2 linked regions of the Homo sapiens genome follow. The protein of the gene in region 2 purifies or fractionates together with the protein of the main gene of each other region. This does not show direct contact. Each region holds a gene or a part of one and is shown on either strand. Other genes may lie near its edges.

Region 1 (10,643 bases), on a different chromosome or scaffold from region 2:
TGTAGACATGGCCTGAGCATGTTTTAAATGTAACGTATTGAAACTGCCTGAAAGGCCGCCATTTGGCACCCAGGCCAACATCAAAAAGCAATGCTCCTAATGAGCATCTGCAGCTGAGAGACAGTATTTCAACAACATGAAATGAAAAGGCATAATGGCACCACTGCCAACGCCAAATAATTTACATCCCTTTACATCAGCAAATGGTTTTAAGGTTTGGCCCCAAGAGTTAATAACAAAAGAGGCTAGAGGTAACAGGACTATGACCTTCAGATTGACTTCTGTATTCTATTACCCTACAGTAAGTAGTAAGCATATCTACCTGTATTGTTAAAAATAGTTTCACTACAATGTTTTCGAATAGTGAAAACTCTGGAGCTCATAGAAACCTAATCATTAGGATTCAGAGGTCCTTGGACATTTCCTCCTTCCTAAAAGACCATCTCTTACAGCATTGCTCAGAGTCACTGAGTATATTATGAAAAGTAAAAAATTTTCTTCTTCGAATTTTACTTAGAATTCTTTCTTTTTAACCAAAGGAATTTTCACCTTAGTGACTTTTATTAAAAGCTCAAATGACTTCATTTTATACAGCCACGTGATTAATGTTTTCAATTTTGTGTAATTTGTAACCCAGTTTTAAGATCAGTAAAATGCTCCCTGTAATGTGCTGCCATTTCTTTTAAAGTTCCAGACATTCCTTAGTCTATATGTTATAACTGCTAAACTGAAAAATGATCAATTATGGAATTTACATTAAAATATTTATCTTGACACCAGAAAACATGTGTGTGCTCAAAAAAGCAATGCTGAACTGGTGCAGGAGAGCCTTTATAAGATGTCTTTGTCTCCTCCTAGTCTATGATTCTTCCCGCAGACTGACGGGGGCAGGTGCGATCCCTTCTCTCCCTGGCCTGCCAATTGGTTCTGCTCTCCATCACAAGCTCAAGATCCTAAAAGTGCAACCCGTTCTTTAGCAACAGGTACTCAATCACTTATTTTACACTAAGTCAGAAAGGACTGTCTGTAAAATGTCTTTGGAAGCCTGCCAGTAGTATTGAAGCCACTTTCAGTCTGGAGAGCAGCCACAGTTCTTTAATACTAAAGACAAAATTATGAGAAATTTATCAAACTCATACTTAACAGAGGCTTCATCACCTTGAAAAATTAAGTGGTTGCATCAGAAATTCCAGAGTCCATTATTTAAGCAGTGTAAATTTTACAAAATGCTCTCTATAATTTGAGAAACTGGGTTCTGTAGTGAACAAAAACATGTCTAAAGATTAGCTTTTGAGTGACAAAATGGTGCTGTTTACTTTGAAAGGCAATTAAGACATTGTTCCTTGTGACAGAAAAATACAGATATAGGTTACTTCCATTAAATTACATATTACCTATCTGAGGAATTCAATTAATGATAAATGGATTCCAAACAGAAGCACTGTTCAAAACTTGGAATTTGGGGGTGCTACAGACTAATTTCTCCTTCTTATTGCTGCCTTCAGTAAACACCCACATCCCTTACAAATAGCACACCCACATCATTTTTTTTTCAGTTTTGATGTGGGATTTTTTTTTCTTTGCAATTACTATCTTAATTCTTGAACTATCAAACTCAAGAAACCAGTCACCAGTTAAATCAACATATTCTTAGTTTAATCAATTATCATTGTAAGACTTAGAGGAAACTCCTTTACTAAACAAGAATATGTCCTGCTATTTTCTGGTATTCCATTTTTAAAAAAAAAATCCTAGATAAAGGTATCTGGAAGGAAGTTATCAGGTTCAACAATTTAGGGAAAGAAAGAGGGCGTTCATAAAGCATTAACTTAAGAAAACAGTTAAAGACTAATGGAAGCTTAGCTAGGTTAGCAGATCTTTAAGACCTTTATAGAGGGAATAGTAACTCAAAAACTTACATAAATCATAGCCCACACGTCTACAATGTCTGGATTATATTCCCTGTTTTTAATAACTCTGTTGGATTTAAAACAAATTATCAGTTATTAATATTTCTAAATATGCTAGTATTTATTGAAAGAAAATAATCTTTCTAGGGTTTGGTTAGAGTTGTGAAAGGTTTTCCACATTCTTATATAGCCTTTATTACATTCAGTGAAATTCTGTTTAAAAACACACATTCTCAGTCTTCAAATGAAAATCAACAAAAATATATGGCTCACTATAACTGTGCTCACAGTCAACTTTGTGGAAGCGCACCTTAATTTGCTTAGTGAGAGATATTATATATACTACTTGATTTCAATGTTAGCTTTTGTAAAGTAGCTCTTTGTTCTTAACCGATGGTATCTTGTTAGAAACCCAGTCCTATCCATTCCTTGACTCTTGCAAGTTTAACTGGCAGAAGACTGCAAAATTATCAAGTAAACATGTGACTTAACCATTCCAGATCGTTCAAGCGAACAATTCTTCAAAACATCCAAAATTTATACTAGAATAAACTCAAATTTACTATGCAATTGCACAACCTTTCATTGTATTTCTAAAGAGCAGAGGACACAGAAAGAGGAGAGGGGCAGCCCATCGGACTCACTTGACGTATTAAGGTTAGCTTGCCTTATATGTAAATTTTCATATGCACCCAGCCGAGCACACAAACTCAGTTACCACTGCCCTGGACATGCTACATTTGAGTCCAAAAAAAAAACAAAAAAAAAAAAAACAAAAAAAAAACCTCAGATATATATACATATGTATATATACTTGTTGTTATGTTTTCATTTTCATTCTAACCCTTTGACTTGAATTCTTTGATTTTTTTAAAAAAAAACTATGGTACAAAAGACATTTTAATGGGAAATTATTTCTCTTTGGAAAACCATTCAACTTCTTTCTTTTGTTAAGCAACCTTGTATGTGTTTCACGTTCTGCCTTCTTCCCATCCTCAAGGTACCGGGCCAGGAAAGAGGTCGCTTTCATTCCAGGGAACACTGGTTAGAATGCCTCCCCTGCCTGGGCATCCAGGAACATCCCAGTGGGAATTCCTGGGCCTGCAACTTCCACGGGATCCAAATACTGATGACTGTACCCATCACGATGATGGAAAGGACCGCCAGGCGATCCCCCAAAAGGCCCACCAAATATCCGGGCTCCATTGTCACGCTCCCACCCGGGGGCGAGGATGTCTCAAAAACACCCCCCTTCCCCCGCCCCATGTGGACAGGTCGCGTCGCGGCACCCACGGGCACCGCGGAAAGGGGCATAACCGGGGTGGCCCCCGCCCAGGTGGCAGCGGAGACCCAGGGCCAGGCGGACTAGGCTTGGTCCCCACCCCTCCTCTCCGGGCCCTGCCACGGCCCCGCCCCGCCGTCAGTAGAGCCCCCGGCCCGCGGTCGGCCGGTCAGCGCACGCGCGTAGGTGTGCCTGCCAGGATGCCCTCCCCGGCGACGCGCTCAGGCCCGGATTCCGCGGCGCGAGAGTGAGCGCTGGCGGGGGCGGTGGGATGCTCCAAGTCGGCGTGAAAGAGGCGAGAGTGGGCGAGCACGGGCGGCCGGACCAGGAGCACTCCCGGTGACCACCTAGTCTCCATTTTATTTCCTCGGAAACTGCCGGGCAGGCGGGGGACCGGCCGCAGGGCGGGGTTTCTCTTGGCGGTGAGTGAGCGAGACCGTTAGGCTGAAGCACCGGGAGACTGTCCTGGCAGCTCCTGGCCGCCACCCGCGCCGCAATAAAAGCCTCTCGCGGCTTCCCGCCCAGCCAGCTTCGCACTGATTGGTCGCCGTGGGAGGGACCCGAGTTGGCTGGAGGCGGCGGCCGAGCGCTGCTCTTGTGCCGCCCGCGGAGGGGGCGCACTGGGTGCTCCCTGGCCCGCCCCGTGCGCTCCCCAACCGGGGGTCGGCCGTCCAGGGCAGGTACAACGGTACCTGGAGCTGCGACCGCGACACACAGCCCCTCCGCCCGGCTTTCCTCGATCGCTTCCCAGCACACGCCCCCCGCCCAGAATGTCCGCCCAACCCACCCAGCTCTCTGCGGCCCCTGCTTTTCTTCCTTCCCTCCCGTCCATCAGAGCCAAAGCGCAAATCCTTGGGTGGAGGTGGGGGGATGACAGCTGGAGGGGAGGGTGGGCACGCACAGAAGAATTTTCCAGGGAGGCCGGGATGGAAATAGCCAAAATGAAATGCACCTCCCTGCACACTGCCGAGGTTCTCTGGGCGGCGGCGCAACCCCCGCCACCCGCGGCAGCATCACTACTGTCTTCCTCCCAGCTCCCTATTGTTCACACTTTGCCAGGATCGGGAACCTCGCCCAAAGAAAGGAGACAGGGCGAGGTGTTTCGGGCGGCTACCTGCCATTCTTCTCCCGCCCCGTGCAACACTGGGCACGCGGCGCGTGTAAAGACACACGCGCGCACACGCGCGCGCACACACCAGGCAGCCCCAATCACGCCCTCCTCGCCCTCCGCCCCTCCGCACTTCCTCCTGTCAAAACGCGGCGCTCGACCCTCCCATCCTTCAGTGCTCGCGGCCGAGGGTAGGCTTTGCAACTAACCAGCAATTTGGCAAATGAAAAACTAACGTCATGTCGACTGGGGTGCAACAACGGTCACACCAACAACAACGGCCGTGCGATTCTGCCCATTTTGCCCCATTTTGCAAACCGTTATTCTTCTGGGGCGGGGGAAGCAAAGCAGCGATCCTGACTTTATTAGACCCAGGAATATAACGATCTGGGGCGGCTGCCCTAGCCTTATTGTTCACTCTTCCCGGAGCCGGGGCTGACAAGCCACTTCCCCCTCGGAATCCGAGCCCGTGCGGCGGCACCACCCGAGCCGCGACCTCCCCCGCCCCGCCGCCCGCCTTTGGGGAAGGAGCGCTGCCCATCACCAGCGCGGCCGCTGAGTCCCCAGGAGCCGGCCGGCTCTGCTCCCACCGCCGCGGGCGCACAAAGTGGGAAGGGCGGACGCGCCGGAGGGGCGCCGGGCGCTGGCGGCTCGGGGAGGCAGCCCCGTGCAGCGCAGCCCTGGAGGGAGCGGGGTTCGGCTGGGCAGCAAGGGCGACGCGCTCCTTTCACAGCTAAACGAAAATGACCAGCCTTAGCAGTCCACGTAAAACCACCCAAAATAATAGCGTTCCTCCTAGGAGTAGGAGGAAGGGGTAATTAGCAAACCAGATTGAGAATTAAAAAAAAAAAAAATGTACCTGCAGTTCCCAGGAAAAACAAAGTCCAGATGAGATCCTTAGTTTGCAGCATTGTAATCTGCTGGCTGGGAGGGATGTTCTTGCCGCGGTAAATTCTGTGCCCCCCCCCCTGCAGCGAGTGTGGACGGCGGCTGAGCGACAGACCTAGGGGCAGACAATTGCCAGGCTGAGTATGATTATTTTTGCAGAATTGTTTCCTGCCAGCGGCAGCCGAGCTGCGTTCACGCGCTGATCGGAGAATGAGTGACAGTCCCAGCCTCAGCACACTCGCAACTCGGAGATCCTTGCGCTGGCCCGGGTTCGTTTTGATGGAACTGGGATGGGAGCGAGGAGCGGGGGGCGGGGGTGAGAACCTCACTGTGTCCTTCCACCACGCCGGCCACAAATAGTGCCGAACATCAAGGAGGTAAGAGAGACAGGGGAGGCAGATGCGGAAGCCTGCAAAACGCGGCCTGGAGCTTTTGGGGGAGCCGGGCTCTTTCACACGCAGTCTCCCTGGGAGAGCTGGGATTTCTTTTCACACTTCTACCCTACGCCTTCGCAGGCGCTCCTGCTACCCAGCCTTCCTTAATCAGCAGTTTGCATATTTTGATAACTAGTAAATAATAAAAGCAAAATTTTAGATTTGGTTAGGTAAAGTTGTCAAATCCCTCCATTTCGATTCTAAGATCCTTGCAACACAAGGATAGCCCAGGACTTTAAGTGCGGGAAATTAGAACTTTGGAGAGGGATGGGGGTTGCCGTTGCTGGGTGTTGTTTGGATATTGTTTGTTTGTTTGTTTTATCCTAACTGTGAAGTTTGCTCTCCCACAGAGAGACATACAACACCCTTCAGCAGATCCCCTGGGAAGGAGGTGGGAAGAGACTTAAGTTAGAAGAAAACTCCGATGTTTGGAAGAGATTTCCAGAAATAACCCGAAGAAAATGTTTTCCTGTTTATAAATTCTGAAATCTGTGGTCTCTTTATTAAAATAGCCAGGCTTTTATATAGGTATTATGATATAGAAGCGTCATTAAATAATATTTTCTTACATGGGGACGTGACCTTAATTCTTAAAGATATTAATGTATAATATTACTGAGGTACCAACACAATAGGCTTTAATTAAAATTCCACCCGTGTTTTCAAAAGTAGGGGGTGGAGAAAGCGGGGTGAAAAGAATCATGTCTCAGCACCTGAAGGCTTGGGTATGTAAGGAACTAATGTGAGAAAGGTGTTCTAGATGTCAGGTTAACCCATTAGCCTAGAACACTGAAACCCTCTAACAGAGGAAGTCTGCATAAGTTCAAAGGCATTAAAGCACTAATGTTACCGGGTACTCCGTTTTTCTTCAAAGGTCGGCCTCCCCACTCCTGTAGCAGGTTTTTTGTTTTGTTTTGTTTTGTTTTGTTTCTGTTTTGTTTTTTTGAGATGGAGCCTCGCTCTGTCGCCCAGGCTGCAGTGCAGTGGCGCCATCTCTGCTCACTGCAACCTCTGCTCCCGGTTCAAGCGATTCTGCTGCCTCAGCCTCCTGAGTAGCTGGGATTACAGGCGCGCGCCACCACGCCCAGCTAATTTTTGTATTTTTAGTAGAGACGGTGTTTCACCATGTTGGTCAGGCCGGTCTCGAACTCCTGACCTCGTGATCTGCCCACCTCAGCCTCCCAAAGTGCTAGGATTACAGCCGTGAGCTACCGCACCCAGCCGCTGTAGCAGTTTTTAAAAGTCCATCCTCTACTGTCAGGACATCCATCCTTATTGGACAGGCCCCATCTCTTCCCCACTTTCCTCCTCTATAATAGACCAAGTGGGCCACACCAGTACAGTGTAATTAGCTTGGACCCCTGAAAAGTATTTCTTCCCCCAAGTAAATCTTCCACAACGTTTACTTTGGGCTATTTCTCTCATTCCAAGTATAAACAATTCAAAAGTACAGAAAAGTAGAAAGAACTAAAAATAACCCCAAATCCCACAGATTCCAGAGATACTCATAGATTTTGTCTTCTGTATGTGCATATGATTTTTATAATTGACATATTATAGTAGCAATTTGAATCCTGCTGATTTTGCCTAACATCAGTATAAGCATTTATTCCTCTGGATCATTAAAAAGCTTTTCTAGATATTTTTATAGCTATGTAATATTTCTTCATATGGATGATTTTGCAATGGTTTCCCCATTTTTGCATATTTATATTGTTTGTGGAGTTTGATAATATAAATAAGGCTTTTTTGAACATCTTTCAACAAATATTTGCGGAGCAACCACTGGGTTTAGCCCTGTGCTAGATGCAGTGAATTATATACGTCTTTTTTTAATGGTTGCTGTATTTAAGTGTCTTTGATTTCAGACTTCTGCTTCTAACATCTAAAATCACCACATTAAATATTACAGATTTATGTAAATGAATGTTATCAGACTCTTTCCTTAAAAAAGAGGTTTTGATGGTGAGGAAAGATAGAGAGAACAGGCAGGGGGTAGAGTGGGGAGAGTGAAGGTTGGGGCCCCCAAAATAAAAATTTTTCCAATTTTGCCCCTAAGAGTGAGAGACACATTCTTCCCTGCAAACCTCCCTCCTTATAGTCCTGTCAGTAGAATTAAAAGACTCCTCACTATTTTTCTCCCCAAATGTCCCTATTTTTAGCTTTTCAATGTAGGCAAGTGTGGAAATCCAATCTCACTTGAGTATGACTGAATTTCTTTTTTTTCCCTCTCTCTCTCCAGCCCCTCCCTACCCCGTGTGGTTGTTGATCTCTGTTGTAATGATTCATTCTAGAATGCTGCCCCAGTCATTCCAGTCCACACTCCCAGTATCACTCCCAAATTCTTTTAACAGGATATGTCACTTGTCTCCAATTCTGTATATCTCCGCTAGTCGGTGCCTACATCTGTGAGCTCTGTTGCGTTTCAATCCCTTCCTGATCCTCATTTTAAAATGGACAAAACTGTGGCCCTCACTGGACCTCTCTCCCCAGAGAGAGGCCCAGGCTGTCAGGCACACATTAATGAGCATCTACAAAGTGAACATCCATGGGATTGAGGCAGAGGAAGGAGACTCCAGACTGTGCTTTAGAGAGAAAGTTCTTTAGAGAGGAAGCAGAGAATGGTCCAAGAAGACAGCCATGGCAAGGAGACAAGCTAGGAGGCCATGATAGCTCTGGATAGGGTGACAGGGACTAATTAAGAAAGCGACAGTGGGAAAGGAGGCAAAAAGGAGCCCAGATTTGCAATTCCAAGATAAGATAAGAACAGGTGGACCTGGGTATGTTGTGAAGATGGAAGTATGAGGCAGAGGAAGAAATCCAAGTTCCTTTCATTCATTCAACAAATATTTATGGATTCTCAACTAAGTGCCTGGCACTGCTCTGGACACTGGGGATGTAGCCGTGGACAAAGTAGAGCCTTTGCCCTCATGGGATTTCCTTCTTATGGGGGAAGACAGAGAATAAATCCTTAAACATTTAGTAGTGTACAGATGGTGATAAGTGCTAAGGAAAGCAATAAGGAGAGATAAGGGGACAGAGAGTCTGGGGCGGAGAGGGATTACCATTTTGTTTAGTGGAGCTATACGGGTGTATGTGATACAGATCTTGAGAAAGTGACAACCGCTAAGGGTCCAGTGTGGGCAATTGAATAGTTGCTGGTAACATTGACAGGGAGCAGAAGAAGAGGGGCAGATTCAGACCAGGTGATAAGCAAAGAAGCAATGATGTCAGCTCTGCACATGCTAAGTCTGAGATGTTTCAGAGACATCCAAGTGGAAATGTGTGGAAGACAGACAGAGAGGGCCCAGAGAACATCAATGTTTAAGGTACAGGCAGAAGGACTTATCAATGAAATACTGAAAAACAGACAGCTAGAAAGAAAATTGAAACATGACAATGTCACAAAACCTAAAGAAGAAAGCTTTGAGGTGGTCAAAAAAGAGGAAGATTTAAAAGAATTTCCTGAATTTGACCATTGGAAAGTCCTTAGTGGCCCCTGGGGGAACAGTATTCATGGAATGGAGGGAAAAGGAGACATCATGGTCCCAGAAATGAAAGGGAGGGGAGGAGAGAGAAGCCAGGGGTGTGGACTACTCTCTCCAGCAGTGTGATGTTGAAGGAGTAGTGGGATAATGGCAGGGAGGCAAGCTTGTGGGAGAAGGAGGCTTAAAAGACAGTTTTCTTTTCTTCTCTTTTAATGTGAGGACTTTATTATCAGGTTATAAAGTAAGTTAAATTGGTGTTAACTCTTGCTCAGCACCACCAAGACCTTATGCACTAGCTTGACTTACACAACTTGAAAAATGAACTTGGAATAGTGCCCTAATTTAGAGCTTCTTTCCTATTGTTATTGACAATGGAGACCCCAGGTTTGATCTTAGGACTCACAGATACCCTAAGAACTTTATTTCACTATTGATACAGGCAAAATGGAGTCTGAGAAGCACAGCATCTTAAGACCAACACAAGAGACAGGTCTTAAGACAACTTAAGACCTGAGGCTAAGAGAGGCTGAAAATCTTCTTCCCGTTTTTGTTTGTTTGTTTGTTTGTTTGTTTTACTGGGTTGTTTGTTCTGTTATTGTTAAGTCATAGGAATTCTTTATATGTGGTAGATACCAATCTCTCATCAGATATATGATTTGAAAATATTTTCCTATTCCATGGGTTGCCTTTTCACTCTGTTTATAGTGTTTTTTCCATATAGTAACATTTTTAATTTTGAGAAAGTCCAACTTAATCTATTTATTCTCTGGCTTATCCAAAGAACTGAGCATGAGCCAGGAAAGTGTAAGGACCAGGAGGTAAACTTGAGCCCACAAAGCTAAAGAGTGAAAGTCTCTCGGGACCCTCCCAGCTCACTCTTAGCTTCTCATGTTCCAAATCTGATTGACGTGAGAAATTACTTACAAACTCTAACCCATGGCGGGGCTGGGGCAACTGATGTGCTTCCTCCCTGTTCAAGGCTGGCTCAGGCACTGGTTAAAGACTAGCGGGCACTCATCAGTCAATCCAGCTCAATGGTGCTGGGGACTCCCAAACGCGGGAGAAATGAGACAGAGGTTGACATAGAACCAGTGCTCCTTTGTGTGGGTTGTGCACTGCACAGCTTCAAGGGGTGTTTTGCAAATCCCACCCATCATATATTTATGCAGTTGTTATGATGATTTTTTTCTGGCATCAGTGGAAGTAAAGCATCAAGGAAGAGGTGCTGTTTTCATTTCCCTTTTTTTTTTTAATTGTGCAGAAAGTTTATTAGGAATTACTTTCAGGATCAACATCTGTGTGGGAAGGGAAATAAACAGGTTACTAATAAAGAAGAGGAAATTGGGCCTCAGGGCAGGCACCACAAAACCTCAGCCCCACCTTGAGAGGTCTGAAAATAGTTGTAATATCCTCATATTGACTGATCACCCGATTCAAGCCACCCCAAGAATGCAACCTGGCCTTGTGAGAGGTCATTCTTTTCAGCTGAAGGAGGGCATCCCCAGCATCTGGAGTAAGCCCTCCAGCCCTGAA
Region 2 (10,477 bases):
CCTCCCGGGTTCAAGCAATTCTCCAGCCTCAGCCTCCCGAGTAGCTGGGATTACAGGCACCCGCCTTCACGCCCAGCTAATTTTGTATTTTTAGTAGAGACAGGGTTTCTCTGTGTTGGTCAGGCTGGTCTCAAACTCTCTACCTCAGGTGATCCACCCGCCTTGGCCTCCCAAAGTGCTGGGATTACAGGCGTGAGTCACCGCGCCTGGCAACCCTTTTTATGTGCCTTTACATGACTTTTATTCCCACACCCCACTCACATTCTCCTTCCTCCTCAAGGAGTGTCACTTTTAATATTTTAATGTGCAACTTTTTGTTTGAACATGTTCTTCATATAAACTCCGTATTGTTACTTTGCATGATAGGCATATATTTTTTACATAAATTGTTAGATAAAATCTCATTCTGTTTTGCACTTTTCTTCACCTGGCATCATGCTTTCAAGTTCCACTGTGTGCACCCTTAATCTGTTGCTTCCAGCAGCTGCAGAGAATTCCACGAGGTGCAGCTCCCACCTCTCTCCAGGTTGTCTTCAACCCCTGCCACCTGTCCAGGGTTTGCAAATTCTCTGGTTTGCTCTCCTCACAACCCTAAGACATAGGCTGAATAGGGACTATTCGGTCTTTTTTACAAAGAAGAAAGCCTGAGGGAATCAGGTCTGTCCTCTGTGCCAAGGCCAAATCTATGGTAGCGACTGCCTGGGTTGTTCTGAGAGAAGTTCTGAGGCTGAATTGAGGCTCAGGAGGAAGGAGCATGCCTTGCTGTGCTGCATTTGCTGTGTCTGCACAGGCCCGGCATCACCCAGCCAGGATGAAGTCTAGCCTCTTCCCCTTTTCTGGGGCCCTTTCTGCTACCTGATCTGGCCTGGCATCTGAGGCCCACACTGGGGGCTGAGCTGGGGAGAGTACACCAGCCCGGTATAAATTGGCTTCCTCTGCCAGACTTCCTCCTAGGCATGTTGACCTTACTTCAGGGTATGATAGCCCAAGAGCCTCTGACCCAGGAAATTCTGCCCCATATCCACGCCCCAGGCCATCTTTCACCTGTCTTCCTTTTTTTTTTTTTTTTTTTTTTTTTTTAAAGATGGAGTTTCACTCTTGTTGCCCAGACTGGAGTGCAATGGTGCAATCTCATCTCACTGCAACCTCCGCCTCCCCGATTCAAGCGATTCTCCTGCCTCAGCTACTCCATGAGTAGCTGGGATTACAGGCATGCACCACCACGCCTGGCTAATTTTGTGTTTTTAGTAGAGACGGGGTTTCTCCATGTTGGTCAGGCTGGTCTTGAACTCCCGACCTCTGGTGATCCACCCTCCTCAGCCTCCCAAAGTGCTGGGATTACAGGCGTGAACCACTACACCCAGCTCCTGTCTTCCTTTTTGAGATGGCTTTTATTTTAGGCTCCAGAACAGCTGGAAAGAGCACTACACTGTCCTTGGCCTCCCTGCTGGGTTGCACCTTTCCTCTTTGCCCCCTGTGGTCATAGGTGCGGAGGCCAAGGGGGCCAGCAGTGAGGAGGGCTGGGGCATAATGCAGCACAGCTGGTCCTCTCAGCCTGGGACAGCCAGAACACTCCCCACTGCCTCCCTGGGGCATGGCAGGGGACGTCATCACCTCTGCTCATGGAGAGTGGCAGAGCCAGTGCCAAAGCAAATCATCCCAAATGCTTTTCTACCTGATGCTGGGCTGGGAAGATACTCCAGGCCCAGAAGACACTGCCATCTCCCTGCAGACCCTGCCAGCTTCTTGCATTCCCAGTTCTGAGGCTGCCCTGAATAATTCACCAGGGGAGGTCTAGGCAGGAGGCCTGGATTCTGGGCCTGGGGGCCTCAGCCCAGTGCACAACCTCTCTGAGCCTGCTTCCTCCACTGGGCTCACCTCTAAAATGGCAACACAGACTCTTAGAGGCAAAGGGACGCCAGGGCCACCTAAGCCCGCTTCCTAGCCAAAGCAGGAATCCCTCCCTCGAACCTGACCATCCAGCTTTGGCTTGTGTCCTTCCAATGTCAGGGACCTCACTACCTCCCAAGATGGCCCATTTTGCTCCTGGACACTTGCAGCATGACAATGCGCCTTCTCAGGAGAGACAAATTACAAAAAGAACAATGATAACAGCTACTATGCACTGGCGCCAGGCATGGCCATAAGCACTTTCACATGGCTGGTTTCATTTGAAGCCTCACAACAACTCTACAAAGGGGTGTCATTCCTTGTGTAGATAAGAAATCTAGGGTGCAGAGATGGTAAATAGCTCGCCCGGGTCATGCGGCGAGCAAGTGGCTACCCCCTTCGAACTTCACCCCACTGGTTCTTGCTCTCTGCCCTCTGGGTTTTACTGAATTGAGGCCCCTTTTCCATCTAAGGGGCAGCTTTCATCTGAGGCTTGGTAGATGATGAGCTGATGCAGTGTGGAGATGAGACTTAACTCTGTTTTGTATCCCTATTTCTGGGGCAGTGTCCGGCAGATCAGAAGCTGTAGATGCTTGACAAAGCCTGGATGGTTGATGAGTGAGTGACCATGGGCACTGGCCCCGGAGTCAGAAGGCCACGCTCTACTGCAGCCCAGCATGGGTGACCCTGCACAGTCCCCTTCTCTGGACCTCTGTCTCTTCACCAGTAAAATCACTGGGTTTGACTGAAAGATCCCTGAGGTCATTTCCTGTCTGGCCTTTTGGGATTCCATTCCTGGGGGGGGGTCCCTCGGGGGGTAACCCCTCCCTGAGGTGGCCATCACCCCCACAGCCGAGCCTCCACCTCCCCAACCCTGCCCTGCTTCCAGCAGTGACAGGGTTAAAACATCTCCCAACAGAAAAGCCACAGTCTTAAGACCTGCGAAGGGCCAAGGGGACACTGCTGAGAGGGAGGAAATGGACGGAGCCCTGAGCTGCACTTGGCTCTGAGCATGAGTTGCCATTCCCAGGCAGCCGCAGGCCTCATGCCTTCCTGTTGATGGCTAAGACCCCCGGGCATCAGATGGGGTCTGTCAGGACATGGGGCTTATGGCCAAGGTGTCCCCTGCAGGCTGCATAGTCACAGGTGGCCAGACATCTCTGTTTATAGATTTAAGGGCCACGCAGTCACCAGACAGACATTGTGGACATAGATTCCCACCCTTCTCACCACAGCGAGGCAGAAGTGGTGATCCAGAACCGTCCCCCACCCCCCCACCATCAGTCCTGGGCAGCTGCTGTGCTCAGCCCCTGAGACCCAAGGCCCCTGGCATCCTCCCAAGGAGCAGCCTGGGAAACTGTGTGCCCCCACCCTCCATGAGCCTGAAACCCGTGCTGGTGGATCCGATGTCGGGGGGTCCCAAACACGGCTGCATCTCAATGAAAATCACACTTCTGGGTCTCACCCCAGACCTACTGAAGCCTCTGCGGATGGGCCCAGGACTTTGCATGTTTAACGAGGTCCCCAGGTCAGTCCCAATACCAGCAATCCCACGATGGGCGTGTGACACCAGAGTCAGACATTGGAGGCAGAGGTGTGGTTACTGTAAGGTCCTGGTCACCACAGGAACAAGAACTCAGAGCTAGCATGGCCCTTGGTATGCAGAGGCTGGGGGTGGTGTGAGGTACATGAGAGGTCAGAGATGAGAAGGAGACAGCAGAGTGAGAGAGAGGACAGGCAATATTCAGGCAGGGAAGAGGGCCCGTGAGAGCAGTAAGCCCCGGGTGAGAAGACAACACTTAGGTATCAACAGGTATGCCTCCCCGGAGTCTGAGAAGACAACACAGAAGGCTCCCGGGGCCCAGGTCCAGTTGTGCCTGCTGCCTCCAGGCTTTGCCTAGACACTAGCCCCCAACTACCCCCAATTCCCCAGACAATCATATGGAGGAAAGGGGACCCTTTGGTGCAGGTGACCTAGCCCTGTCCCTGATCAGTCACCAGGCTGGTTTCCTGGCCGGGCCTGAGGGGTGCTCCGCCCCTTGGCTGACCTGGCATGATCTGATGGACACCCCGTTGGTGGCAGGTCCGTGGGGCCAGGGCCAGGCTGCATGCCACACTGCGGACTGGGCCTCTCTCAATGAAAGCGAGGCCCAAGGAGTGGGAAAGAGGGGAAGTAAAGTGACACCTACCTGAGCTGCTAGCGCTCTCAGAAGCACTCCTGGACATCTTAGGCTGGCCGTGTTTGCCGCTGGCCCGCCCAGACCCCGGTGGTGGGGGGCCCGAGGGAGCAGGGGCGCCGTCTCCCCTGATGGTGGTGAGGTCCTGCATGCTGAAGCTCCGCAGTCTCTCCGATAAGGCACCCTGTCCCTGGATACAACACAGGAGGGGCACACGTCAGAGGTCCTGCTCCACAGGTCACACTCGACAAAGGCCAAGAGGGAGCTCTGATGGTCAGCCAGGTGGAAATCAAGACCTGGATCAACTCTGAGGCGCAGGTGCCCAGACATAGCTGCTGGAAACACAGAGAGGGTCAAATCCCGGAATTTTCCAGGGCCTCCTCTGGGGCTCAGTAATTGCTCCTTTGGCTCCAGGATCCCTCCCTACCCTCAGACACCACTATGATGATACGATGATACGATGATGATCCGGAGCCTCAGACAGACCCAGGGCCAAGGGCGTGACTACTGCCTGCAGCTCCTACTCCTTCCAGGCCACCTGCTGCTTCTCTTGCTTTGCATAAATAAAAATCCACATGTATCTCCATTTTTCTCAGTACATGAGAATCTGGTCAGGCAATCAAAACCTAATATTCTATGTGCTTGGTTCTTATTATTTTCAAAGGACACAAAATACAGACAATATTTTTCTAAATGTTTGACAACAGAAATTTCTTTTATTTGTATAGCATATTACTGTCTACGAGGCACATTTACTTCTGCTGGTGCATTTCAGCTTCATAAAATACCCAAAAGGTAATGAATCAGAAAGGAAAAAAATGATTTAAAAAAACCCTGCTGATTGTAACCATTTCATATTCTGAGGGAGACAGAGAATTAATCTCGGGGGGAATTGTTCTTTTATTTAGAAAGCAAGATCAATCCATTTTACTTACGAAAGAGCAGCTCCTCACTGTCTGGATGAGAGAATGTGTCAGAGTGAAAATGATCACAGTGAAGGCTCAGGGATGGTGGCATTGCTTTAAGTGTGCCTCAGGGGCTGCAGAGAGAGGTTATGGAAACCTGAGAGTGGGAGGAGACTGGGGAAATTGAGAATCGGCTAGGATTTGGAGCAAGAAGTGACAGGCAAGTAACTACCAGGCAAATGAATGAACTCAGACATCTTCAGAAAGAAGAAAGCCTGGAGGGTGTGCAGGGTTCCCTCGGGTGCATGGCACTGCAGTGGCATGGGAGAGGTTTTCTATGCCACTTGGATAATGAAGGAAAGAGTGGTCCCAGAGATCTGGGGGACAGGGGGACAATACTGCACAACAGACATAACAGAACCAACAAATCAGCACAAAATCAATTCAAGCCGCTGACAAGAGGGCTGCTGGTGGGATTGATGAAATAAGCAAGGGCCAAAACAGTTGAGTAAGAGGTTTTCAGGGGTGAGAGAAGGGTTTGGAAGATTTTTTTCATTTTACTTAATATAAAAAATAATGAAAATGAACCAACAAAGCACAGCAATTCGCTGAAGTGAAAAATCCAGATAGGATCAAGGAGCAGACGCAAAATGAGTTCATTAGAGGGGAGGGGGAAAAAAAGGGGCTTGCAGTCAGGTTTAGAAGAAACGCCAGAAGAGGGCAGGCGTGGTGGCTCATGCCTGTAATCCCAGTACTTTGGGAGGCTGAGGCAGGAGGATTGCTTGAGTCCAGGAGTTCGAGACCAGCCTGGGCAACAAGCGAGACCCTGTATCTACAAAAAATTTTAAAAACTAGCTGGGCATGGTGGTATATGTCTGTAGTTCCGGCTACTCGGGACACTGAGGTGGGAGGACCGCCTGAGCCCAAGAGGTAGAGCCTGCAGTGAGCCGGGATCATACCACTGCACTCTAGTCTGGGCAACAGAGTGAGGCCCTGTCTCAAAAAAATAAAAAGAAAGAAAGAAGTGCCAGACTAAAAGCAAGATGCACTAAAATATGAACTAGATCTGTTCCCAACCTACCAAAGATATAAAAACCATGTCACCAGGAAACCAACAACAATAACACAAAGAAAACTATTTAAAAAGAATTGTAAGTCCAGGCCAAGAAGTATTTGGAGGATATTATATGAAAAAAGACAGAAATCACCCTGGTTGCCTCAGACACTGCTCTAGAGTGATGGTTGGGCAAGGGTCCAAGGTCTCACGTCCTTGGCAGGAACAGCTGGGTGGTCTCTGCCAGCAAAATGGAGGCTGGACCAGCCAGACACCCATTATATAACCCCTTCAAATATAGCAGCCAATGATCCATGATTATTTTACGCAGAAACATTCTAGGCAGCATCTAGAATTTAGAAGAAATTTGATGACTAAGGAACAAAACTTGATTCTGAAATGAGTGAGAAAATATTCTGCTAATTATAAGTGAGTAACTCAATGTTAGGTTAGTGTTCAAGCAAACTGTTCACTGACTCACTCTTTCATTCATCCTCTCATTTCTTCGTTTACTTTACTTGTTCAACAATTACCAAGTACTTTTTATGGGCAAGAACATGGTGCTAGGTGCTAACATGAAACACCAAAAATACAGTTTGATTTCTGAGAAAGCGGAGAACGACAAATGTACAGATACAACACAGAAGTATCCTAGCAGAAGCTACAGAAAGTGAAGATTGAGAACAGCAGTTCTTGAGTCAGGCCTTGATTCAAATTCCAGCCCTGTCATTCAACAGCTGAGTGATCTTAACCTCTCTCCACCTCAAGACCTTCATTTGCAGAAGAGGATCCAAATGGCCGGCTGCTCGTGCGGATTCAATGAGATTACATCCTTAAGATACCCATCACATAGCCCATTGCATATTTAGTCTTCAAAAATGTCAACTATGATGATAATGATGTTGATGCTGTGGCTACTGCCTAAGATACAAAGGTTGCTATTGAAAGCTATTGAAAGCTGCCTAAGACACAAAGGTTGCTATTGAAAGCAGAGGTGGAAAAGGTCACTTCCTAAGCTTCATGACCCCAAGCCCAAATAAACGGCCAGGGACGAATTCCCTCAACACAGTTTGCCAGTTCTTGCTCATTGTCGCTCAGCAACATATGTGAGAGAAAGCAACAGCAGGCATCGTACACGTTCATTTTAGCAAAGTGCTCCATTCAACTCCCAGAAGCCAGCCAGTCTAGCTCCAATATCACACTGGCAGTGGCAGAGGTTAGGAAAGAGAGGGAGATAATAATAGCTCAGTATCAACCTAGGCCTGTGTCAGAGGAAATTATAGTGGCATAGATACAAGACTCCTGAAAACAAATTAGCCCTTGCCCATCAAAACACTCTGAGATGGTTAAAATCAGTATGCCTGACCGGGCGCGGTGGTTCACGCCTGTAATCCCAGCACTTTGGGAGGCCGAGGCAGGTGGATCACTTGAGGTCAGGAGTTTGAGACCAGGCTGACCAACATGGTGAAACCCCATCTCTACTAAAAATATAAAATTAGCCAGGCGTGGTGGTGCACGCCTGTAATCTCAGCTACTTGGGAGGCTGAGGCAGGAGAATCTTTTGAACCCGGGAGGTGGAGGTTGCAGTGAGCCAAGATCATGCCATTGCACTCCAGCCTGGGCAACAAGAGCAAAAACTTCATCTCAAAAAAAAAAAAAATCAACATGCCTCTCTCTTTTGTAAACCTTTCAGCCCTTCTCAGTCTCTACACAAAATCTCATTCCTATTCACTTTCCACAAACCCCATTCCACACTGTCTGTTCAGCTCCGCTCTGCAGAATCTTTGTTATTCTAGACCATTGTCTTCTGGGAAGAACCACGAGTTGTTCATTGGTATTCTGCAAAATTGGTTTCCCTACTTTGGGGAAATAAATTTGGATTCTCTAAATTTGGAAAGCATTAATACCATATTCCCCATAATTCCATGAGCCACATTATCATACTAAAAGCTCTGAGAAGGCCCATCTGGTGGTGCATGCCTGCAATCCCAGCACTTTGGAGGATGAGGGGGGAGGATTTCTGGAGCCCAGGAGTTCAAGACCAGCCCGGGCAACATAGGTAGATCCCGTTTCTATTTTTAAAATTTAAAAAGACATCGCTAAGTCACCAGAATAATAATGACAACACCCACCTACTCCTAGACTTCTTGAAAATGATTTTCATCAATTTTTTTTTTTTTTTCGAGATGGAGTCTCACTCTGTCGCCCAGGCTGGAGTGCAGTGGTGCAATCTCGGCTCACTGCAACTCCGCCTCCCGCGTTCACGCATTCTCTTGCCTCAACCTCCAGAGTAGCTGGGACAACAGGTGCCCGCCACCACGCCTGGCTAATTTTTTGTATTTTTAGTAGAGACGGGGTTTCACCGTGTTAGCCAGGATGGTCTCGATCTCCTGACCTCGTAATCCGCCCGCCTTGGCCTCCCAAAGTGCTGGGATTACAGGCGTGAGCCACCGCGCCCAGCAGATTTTCATCAATTTTAAGACGTATTTTTCATCTCTGAAATTGGGGTGGGTCTTACAATTGCTGCCGCCCTGACATCATTGTCAACGCCTACACATAGATATACTTGGTTGTTATTCTCCCTGGCATAACTGGACAACTGAAGCCCCTGAGTGTTTAATTAACAAACCATTTAAGAACTGTTTGAGAAAGGAATATGAATCTCAGTTGTCTAACACATATCTCACTGACACTTTCTGGTATGATCAAGAAAGTGGCAGCATCAAAACTGGCATGAATGAAAATCCCAGAAACAACAGCTCGACATCACCCAACACACTAGAAGGAACAGAGAATGATATGGCATGGTCATAAGTGGATACTGACACGCCGAGCTGAAAAGTGATTCGGGAGACTCTGAAAGTGAAAAAGTGAGGTTAGAGAGATCTTAACCACTTATTGTGCTAATGCGTTCCTTTTTATTTTCTTTCTCTCTTTTTGTTTTTTCTGTTGTTGTTGTTGTTTGTTTGAGATGGAGTTTCACTCTTGTCAGCCAGGCTGGAGTGCAATGGCACAATCTTGGCTCACTGCAACCTCTGCCTCCCAGGTTCAAAAGATTCTTCTGTCTCAGACTCCTGAGTAGCTGGGATCACAGGTGGCCACCACCACGCCCGGCTAATTTTTGTATTTTTAGTAGAGACGGGGTTTCACCTTATTGGTCAGGCTGGTCTCGAACTCCTGACCTCAGGTGATCCACCCACCTTGGTCTCCCAAAGTGCTGGAACAGGTGTGAGCCACCGTGCCCAGCTGTGTTCCTTTTAATGTATTTATAAAAGTGACAAAAAAAAGATGTCTAAGAGTCTTTTTGATAAGAAGAAATAAACATTCTGGCTGGGCGCAGTGGCTCATGCCTGTAATCCCAGCACTTTGGAAGGCCAAGGTGAGTGGATCACCTGAGGTCGGGAGTTTGAGACCAGCCTGTCCAACATGGAGAAACTCCATCTCTACTAAAAATACAAAATTAGCCAGGCATGGTGGTGCATGCCTATAATCCCAGCTACTCTGGAGGCTGAGGCAGGAGAATCGCTTGAACCCGGGAGGCAGAGGTTGAGGTGAGCCGAGATCGTGCCATTGCACTCCAGCCTGGACAACAAGAGCAAAACTCTGTCTCAAAAATAGTAATAATAAATAAATAAATAAACATTCTAAGTGAAAAAACATTGTGTCCTAATTTAATTGGCAATATTATCTTTCTTAGTGGAACATAAGATAATGATGTGTCTCAGAAACCACAGCTTTTTAGATTCAATGAAATATGGTTGCACTTCTCAGAGCAGCTTTCTCTACTCATCCCAGTTCCCTGTAAATGCTGTCACTACAGCCTTTGAGCTGTACTTCTCTCTTGTACTCCACACAATGATATTTAAATATTGCTATTGTCTGTTTTATTCACTATTGCAGCCTTGGCATCTGCCACTCTACTTGATACATATTTGGGGTTAAGGAGTTGCATGAATGAACGTATGACCATTTATGGAGCTGCCGCCTGGGTGAAGCGTGACAGTGGGAAATCCCCACCTCAGCCTGATGCATCAGCCAGGGTCCCAGACCTGAAAGAGGATCCTGCTGAACAAGCCTTGAGATGTGTCTGCAAGGAGCGTATAAGAAGTGTCAGAGGGCTGTGGGTGCACAGGGCAGAAGGCACACATCAGAGAGGCAAGGCATCCCAGAGGAGACTGCGCTTGAACTTGGGTGGGTGGAGGACTTGGGTAGGTGAAGATAGAAACCAGGTAGAAAAAGAAGGAATGTGTGTTAGTATTTGTCACCACTGAGAGCGGCCACTTCAATCCACCCCAAGTGAGGTCTTTGTAGTTTTGTGTGCTAAGGGGATGGGGGTCCACTTATACCTTGTTCATGGCCAGGGATGTATCTGAATAGCGGAAATGCCTGCAGAAAGGCTACGTGGTTTCTTCGTAAACAACCATGCCAGTAGAAGGCAGGGGTAAGAGTAA

What was found.
Region 1: the proteins of REEP1 (region 2) and NCAM1 purify together in Homo sapiens (affinity purification with mass spectrometry; 2 studies listed by BioGRID and IntAct, with this or other methods). This does not show direct contact.

The regions. Positions count from the first base shown.
Region 1 is NC_000011.10:112,956,181-112,966,823, reverse strand, and holds the start of NCAM1 (neural cell adhesion molecule 1 isoform 2 precursor), read right to left. Parts: upstream 5,405-10,643; 5' UTR 5,212-5,404; coding exon 5,160-5,211; intron 3,615-5,159; exon of another isoform or gene 3,364-3,614; intron 1-3,363.
Region 2 is NC_000002.12:86,228,546-86,239,022, forward strand, and holds part of REEP1 (receptor expression-enhancing protein 1), read right to left. Parts: intron 4,258-10,477; coding exon 4,080-4,257; intron 1-4,079.